Linked DNA regions of Homo sapiens. The protein of the gene in region 1 purifies or fractionates together with the protein of each later gene. This does not show direct contact. Each region holds a gene or a part of one and is shown on either strand. Other genes may lie near its edges. The genes, in order: WFDC10A and ZZEF1.

Evidence for each region.
Region 2: the proteins of WFDC10A (region 1) and ZZEF1 purify together in Homo sapiens (affinity purification with mass spectrometry; 2 studies listed by BioGRID and IntAct, with this or other methods). This does not show direct contact.

The regions. Positions count from the first base shown.
Region 1 is NC_000020.11:45,627,559-45,631,474, forward strand, and holds WFDC10A (WAP four-disulfide core domain protein 10A precursor), read left to right. Parts: upstream 1-2,180; 5' UTR 2,181-2,255; coding exon 2,256-2,346; intron 2,347-3,311; coding exon 3,312-3,460; 3' UTR 3,461-3,638; downstream 3,639-3,916.
Region 2 is NC_000017.11:4,073,115-4,077,030, reverse strand, and holds part of ZZEF1 (zinc finger ZZ-type and EF-hand domain-containing protein 1), read left to right. Parts: intron 1-41; coding exon 42-163; intron 164-271; coding exon 272-394; intron 395-1,601; coding exon 1,602-1,768; intron 1,769-1,852; coding exon 1,853-1,934; intron 1,935-2,679; coding exon 2,680-2,881; intron 2,882-3,916. UniProt on the Homo sapiens protein: Histone H3 reader which may act as a transcriptional coactivator for KLF6 and KLF9 transcription factors.

The DNA.
Region 1 (3,916 bases):
GTTCAAGAATTTATCCATTTCCTCTAGGTTTTTGAATTATAAAGGATATCACAAAGGATACAGAGGAAGAGGTGCATAAGGTGAGATATGGGGAAAGGCTAGAGAGCTTCCATGCCCTCCATGAGCATGCTGCTCTCCAACAACCTCTAAGTGTTCAGTGGTAGCCACCTGGAAGCTCTGACTTATATATTTTAATTTGAAATTTCTGTTCAGTTTTGAGTAATTGTCTTTTTTTAGACTAATTTCTAATTATTTCCATTATAGTCTGAAACTATGTCCTTTGTGATGTAATTCTTTAAAATTTTGTTCAGACTTTTTTTATAGCCTAATGTATAGTCACTTTTTGTACATGTTTTATTTGTGCTTGAGAAAAATGTGTTCCTCTAGTTTTTCTATGCAGACTTCTGTATATTTTAATTAAGTCAAGCTTATTAATCATAATGTTCAAATTACCCATCTCTTTACTAAATTTACTACTCTATCAATAATTTGAATGTATAAAGTATAGACCTTCTATATACCCATAAATCTTTCCCCTTATAAATGTCAGTACTTGAGCCTGCCACAATGTTGACTAGACTGCTTTAACAGAAAGCCTCCATCACATAATAACTGAAATACAATATACTTTTTATTTCTTGCTCAAATAATAATTCAAAATGAGTATTCTAAAACAATGGGTATCCTTTTTTCATGTGATAAAAGAAGTCAAGGACCCAGGCTCCTTTCACCTTTTGGCTTCACTAGGCTCTAGAACCTTGTTGTCATCTATACTGAGCTGGTGGAAAAGAAAAAGAGTGTGAAAGAGACTTGCCATCTTCTTAGGGTCTTGACCTAGTAGTGACAAGTCTGTTAGCCAAAATATTTACATTGTGGCACTGGCTGCAAGATGCTTGGGTAAGGAAAATGCAGCTTCTATTTGAGATGATGATTCTCCTCTATATAACCCCTCTTTGCTAGGATAGTTATGACAGTGTCCAGTCTCTAAATTGTTCATTTATGAGTGGACAAAAAGAAAAACTAGGAAAGAGAGAGCCTTTGGGAAGGGTCAAATACCACTCTGTAAACTATAGGTACAAATATCAGAATTTTTGAATTATAAAGGATATCGCAAAGGATACAGAGGAAGGTGCATAAGGTGAGATATGGGGGAAAGGCTAGAGAGCTTCCTTTGAATGTAAATTACAACTGTGGACTGAAGGAGTCTGCATTAGGAGTTCAGAATGTCAGAAAGAGGTTCAAATCTTTAGAAGATTATCATCATCAGAGGAAGAGGGTGATCTTCTTCCCAGCTTGCATGCCTACTGGGAGTCCAGTGACCCTAGGTTGTCCCCTCTTTCTCCTGTTAGGGAAGAAGAAACATCTTCACTTCTGAGAGTTCATTTCCTTCATGATATTCAAGGTCAGTGACCACCTCCTCCTGGACAGCCTGCCAAGCCTTTGACTGATAGGTCTCTCCCCCTGTCTGAGCTCTAAGATATTTACTATGTTTCTCCACTAGCCCTTCTGTCCCATGCCCTACAATAGTCTCTCTTTCTGTGTGTTTATGTGTGTTTAAATTTGTATATGTATATCTGTGTATGTGTTTATATACATTTATATATGAAACAGCTACTTACTCTTTCACTCAGGAATTCTAGCTCTCTTAGTCTAAAGAAATCAAAGATTTATAAATAAAAATAATATGACATTCTCTAGATTATTAGTAATTAGTACAATACAAATACTTGATTATTAGCATTTGAGAGCTGTGCAATTATGAAAATCCACATTTTGAGAAATACTTACATGATTAAATAAGGGTGGCAAAAATAGATAACAAAAGTTGTTTATATTAAAAGGATTGTTTATATTAAATATGGAGAGAAACTAAAAGATAATGCAATGAAACATCAGTTAATTCTAAGCAACTCTTTTTAACAATATATTTTTTCTTTTCTTTTTTCCATAAAACATTTTGTAATTAGAAAGCAGAAATAAATGATATCTTTCATTCTATCGGCAAGAACACAAGACTGGTTATGTGAAAGGAGGAGGCGTCATTCCTGCGGAAGCCCTATCCCACATGACGAACGACAAGGCCAGGGGCAAGCAAAAAGAGGAAGGACTCTCTTGCTCTGCTCCGACTTGGCCAGTAGAGGCAGTGAGGAGCTAAAGATCATTCCTTCTTTCCTTCCTTCACTCTCCGTAGACAGCTCTGCAGGGAAGTCTGTGACAACCTGGCCAGACATAGGGCTCACGATCTGATCAGAGTCATGGCACCCCAGACTCTGCTGCCTGTCCTGGTTCTCTGTGTGCTGCTGCTGCAGGCCCAGGGAGGATACCGTGACAAGAAGAGGATGCAGAGTAGGTGATGGGCTGCTGGATGGGTGAGGGGGAATTGGGTAGGGGGAATGGAGGGCCTGTGTCCAGTCTGAGTAGGACCTAGGAGTTGGAAACTCTCTGCATATCCAGCTCTGACCACAATGTTGTGTAGACTCTGGACTGTCCCTAAACCATGGCCCTCCAGCCCCTTAGCTGGCCCTGGGAATAGTAATGGGAATGAAGAAGAAACCTGCATATTTTGCTGTTCCTTCTCAATACTTAGAGAGAAATGGCACATCCCATAGTGAAAGGCGCACCAGGGCTGAGAATCCAGTGGGGAAAGCAAGACAATTATTATTTGATTTATGCACATTTGTGAGGAGTAAAGATTCAGAAGTGGTTATGACGGTAGGTGTAGGTGTAGAATGGGTATAAGTGTAGGGAAATAGGACATAAGACAAGCAAAAGTTGGGGTACACAGAGCCAAGTTAAGGTTATCATCAAAGGGGCAAGGAGAGTGGTGGTGGAAAGGGAACTAAAGAAGGGGCAGGAAGACTAGAGACAGTGACAGTGAGCAGAAGAGAGGGAGAGACAAGAGGCATGTTGATCCTCATCTCTGAATTCTACTATTCAGAGACTAGGAGAGAGTTTGAAAGATGTCTCATGCTTCTTTGAGCTCTCAGGATCAGACTGTAGATTCTTTGGTGGTGACTTCACCAAGGCCATGACTAGTAAGGGAGATGGAGTTCTGATTGCTGGTGTGTGGAGAAGGTCCAGGAAGCCCAGGCATTGTGGTCTAATGGGGTAAGGTGTACAGTGGAGAGACAGGATTTAAAATATGACCAATCACTAGGATTTGGTGATGGGCAGGAAGGTAGTTCTATGAAGAAGGAATCCAGGAGTATCATGACTGAGACCTGGGTTCAAGGGTCTTGGAGGAGGCTTCAGCTTGAGAAAAATGTTCTCTAGGAAACTGCGTTTATTTACCGTTCTATTCTCCTTGTCAGAAACACAGCTATCCCCAGAAATCAAAGTCTGCCAGCAGCAGCCTAAACTATATCTATGCAAACACTTATGTGAATCTCACCGAGATTGTCAAGCAAATAACATATGCTGTTCTACCTACTGTGGGAATGTTTGCATGAGCATCCTGTGAGTGGGAGAGTGGGCTGGGATGTGCATCCTGCTTCCCAACTCCTCTATCCAAGACTGTGCCCACATCCGAAGCACAAGGACCTCAAGTCACCAGCATAAGAACATCAACAGGAATGCCGCCCTCTCTACTGTCTGAACCCCTTGTCCCTGTCAAATAAACCAGAACAAATGCCCAGGGATCCTACCTCTTTTGCTGCCACTACAGATGATCATTGAGAGCTCACTGTGGCCCCTACAGATGCCCCACTTGTCTTGCGTCCTGGTGTTCAATTTCTCTCCCTGGCTATGCTTCTCTACCCTCCCTCTCCCTCTTTGGCCCACGTATCCCTGCCAGCCCTCAGGATGCCCAGCCCCTTGCTGTTTTGCTCACTGAACCAGTACTCCCAGGGGGAGGAACTGCTCATGTGCAGCATCTCCTGATGCTAAGGAGAACATTTCTCACCCTGGAGTCAGAAGG
Region 2 (3,916 bases), on another chromosome or scaffold:
TCTACTATATAATATATTAATTATTTTCTTTGTTTCGGTAGATGTGGGCCAGTTTCTGGCAAGCATGAGAGCGATTTTGGAATCCCTTTTCTCACAGTACAGTGGAAAAACCATAGTAGAAAGATTATGTAACTCAGTGTTTTCAATGGCAGCTCGTCAACTGGTAAGAAAAACTAGCAGCTATTTGTAAAGAACCGGAAGGGGGTTGGGGGTCTGCATCCCCAGGCCCAGCCTAAGGTGGACGCTGAGTGCTTCATCCATCTTCCATTAGGTTATCTTCCTGCTGGACTTCTGCACTTTAGACATCCCACACTGCGTGCTCTTGAGAGAGTTCAGCGTCCTCACAGAACTCCTGAAGAAGCTCTGTAGTGGCCCCGAAGGAGGACTGAGGAAGGTAACTCGAGTCAGCACTTGAGCCGCCCCGTGTTCTCTCTCAGGAGTGATGGGACACACTTAGTGAAGTGGACCACGGACTGCAGATAGGCACAGCTGAGCAGCCTCTAGAAGGCTCCCTTGATTTTATCAGTGGGCTTGCCAACAAGGGTGAATGTCAGTCCAAGTCGATGTGGCCTGGTCAGCATTAGAAAGGAGACGCAGAGGCCGGGCGCAGTGGCTCACGCTTGTAATCCCAGCACTTTGGGAGGCCGAGGCGGGCGGATCACGAGGTCAGGAGATCGAGACCATCCTGGCTAACACGGTGAAACCCCGTCTCTACTAAAAATACAAAAAAAATTAGCCGGGCGTGATGGTGGGCGCCTGTAGTCCCAGCTACTCGGGAGGCTGAGGCAGGAGAATGGCGTGAACCCGGGAGGCGGAGCTTGCAGTGAGCCGAGATTGCGCCACTGCACTCCCGCCTGGGCCACAGAGCGAGACTCCGTCTCAAAAAAAAAAAAGAAAGGAGACGCAGAAAAAGCTGTAGAGATGAATCTCATCATTTTATAGTTGATGAAGTTATATAAAAACCATGTAAGTGAGTGACAAAATTGAAGTCTAGAAGAGAAAATGTATGTTGAAAGGCAAATTACATTTTGTCTTTAGAAGAAATTTCTCCCTTACTTAATTATACATACATAACGTTTAATCACTGTCTTGTGTGAGCTTCTTCTTGTGTGTCTTTTGTGTGCCACAGAGCACAACTCTGTGGCAGTAGAAAAGGCATTTATATTTAACAGGTAAAAAACCAAAGGCCCCCCCCCAACCCCCCGCTCAAAAGAAAAGGGTAGGAGAGGAAGGGAGAGTAGATCCAGATTTGCCAGTGTCCCAGGTAGGAATGTGAGGTCTTTAAACTCCTCATTCAGTACTTTTTCCACTGGGAATTCACACTGGTAATGATTTGTAAGTAGTTCTGTCATAGCGAAAAGGTACAAGCTGGTCATGGAGTTTTTGTGTGTAATAAAAGCACATCTCCTCGGCTGCGTGGTGGACGTGTGTTGATCTGTGTGAAGATGGGAATGTCAGGTTTGTCTTCGAGCCTGCCTGCTGGTTTGTGCAGGGCTGTCAAGGCCATCTGCCTGGAGCACTGATAGAGAAACAGTCTGCTGCATGTGGCTAGGTGTCTAGTGATAGAACCTTTCTTTCCCCTGGCTCATTTGTTATCATAGCTGGATGTTGAGACCTGGCAACAGGAACAGCCTGTGGTGTTACATACGTGGACGAAGGAATCTGCCCACAACTATGAAAATAATTGCCATGAGGTATCCGTCTTTGTTAGCCCAGGGGCAACCTATTTTGAAGTGGAATTCGATGACAGGTGTGAAACTGAAAAAAGGTAAGACTTCTATATTCTTTCACCCCCAAGCGCTAATAGGTCAGCAATGAGAGAAGGAAGCTAATAGAGGTTATGCCTTCACAGGTATGATTATCTGGAATTTACCGACGCTAGAGGTCGGAAAACACGCTATGACACAAAAGTTGGCACTGATAAATGGCCCAAGGTGAGTGATAGTCCCAGAAAGAGGTACCTACTTCTGCACCAATGCTTTTCCTTTTGTCAGCCTTCAGGGGGCAGTAGAGGTAAGGTCTTTGAAGGGAGGCATTTATGTTACACGTTTGTGAAAGGAAGGATTTATATCAGAGTTTGACCAGCTATAGTCTGTCACCTGTTTTGTAAACAAATTTTTTTGGAACACAGCCATGCCTGTTTATCATTTATAGCTGCTTTGGCACTGCAGTGGCAGAGTTGAGTAGTTGCAGCAGACAGCGTTGTCTAGAGTAAATGAAGAGCCTTCATCCTTAGCAAGAAGTGCTGGTGGGTCTAGGAGGATGGCCCAGACCATGTGATGGAAGCCAAGAGTCTGCCTCACAGTTAGAGCTGCTTGAGCTCTTGGGCTGGAGGTTTAGTACTGCCTCAGACTGTTGACCTTCTCTCCATGGTCAGTGGTCTTGGCAGGAGCAGAGGCATGGAAATGTGACCACTGGCTGAGTCGGTAGTGGACAGATGGTCACCCCAGGTGTAGAAAGCTGAGCAGCAGTATTCTGCCAACTCTCCTTCTTCATGGGGTGTGGCTGTGAATGGTCTGTTTCCGTCACCCCTTTGTACATTTCTCCGTTAGTCATTTTGGACATGTGGAAATAGAGATCAATTTTAAACTGAGATGTTTCTCGTCATGAAGAGCATGCTGATTTCTGAAGCACTCCTCCTCTAATCTGTCTGACCACATGATTTCTGTTTGTCTCTAGAAAGTGACCTTCAAGGCCGGTCCTCGGTTGCAGTTCCTCTTTCACTCTGACAGCAGTCACAACGAATGGGGCTACAAATTCACTGTCACTGCCTGTGGGCTGCCCGATGTTGCCGTGTCTTGGGGGCTGGATTTACAGCTCCTCGTCTCCCGGCTGATGGGACGCCTGGCTTCCCAGTGCATGGCGCTCAAGTCTGTGCGCCGTAAGTGCACATCCCTGTGCTTTCCCTTCTTACAACCACGGTGAAGTGCAAGATGCGCGCTTGCCCTCTTGTAGGTCGTTTCCACGTAATGGCAGGGGGTTAATAATACGCCTTTTCAGTTTCCTTTAAACCGAAAGAATAAAGTGTCCACTCAATACCATTGTCACGAAGCTTTTTGCCTTAGACTTTGGAACATAGCAGGAAGGCTGCCATGGGTTCTCTGTCTATGGAGGATAACAGCTTTTTTTTTTGGCAACATTGTCATTTTTTTGCAAGTAGGTGTAGGTATAGTCCAACCAAAAGGCAGGAGTATAGAATAAGTTGATTGCATATCCTTTAAATATGTGAATATTTATGTAAATATATGTAGATATGTGACTATGGATTTTGTTTTAAAGTGATTCATTCAGGGCTGAGCAAGGTGGCTCATGCTGGTAATCCCAGCACTTTAGGAGGCCAAGGTGGGAGGATTTCTTGATCCCAGGAGTTTGAAACCAGCCTGGGCAGCATAGTGAGATCCCTATCTTTACCAAAAAAAATGTAAAAATTAGCCAGGTGTGGTGGCATATGCCTTTTGTCTCAGCTACTTGGGAGGCTGAGGCAGGAGGATCACTTGAGCCCAGGAGTTAGAGGCTGCATGCAGTGAGCTGTGATCATACTGCTGCACTCCAGTCTGGGTAACAGAGAGAGACTCTTGTCTCTTAAAACAAAAGGAAAAAGATGTGTTCAGTATAATTGTTTATTTAATTCTTCCAGGGAACAAGAATTACAGAATAAAACTTTCTACTGTATTTTATTTCTTGATCATTTCTTGAGTTTTTCCAGTTTTAGAAGTAAAATATAGAAAAATTACATAGTGGAAAAAAACAAAGGAAAATAGAATCATCCTTAATCCTAACACTCAGAAGTAACTGATTTTTTTAATATTTCTCCAAGAAAGAAAGAAATAGCTATTAGCATTTTTATTTCCACCTATTCTTTTCTCTTTGCCTATTCTAAACACATCTATGCTGGATATTTATTATTTGCTACAGA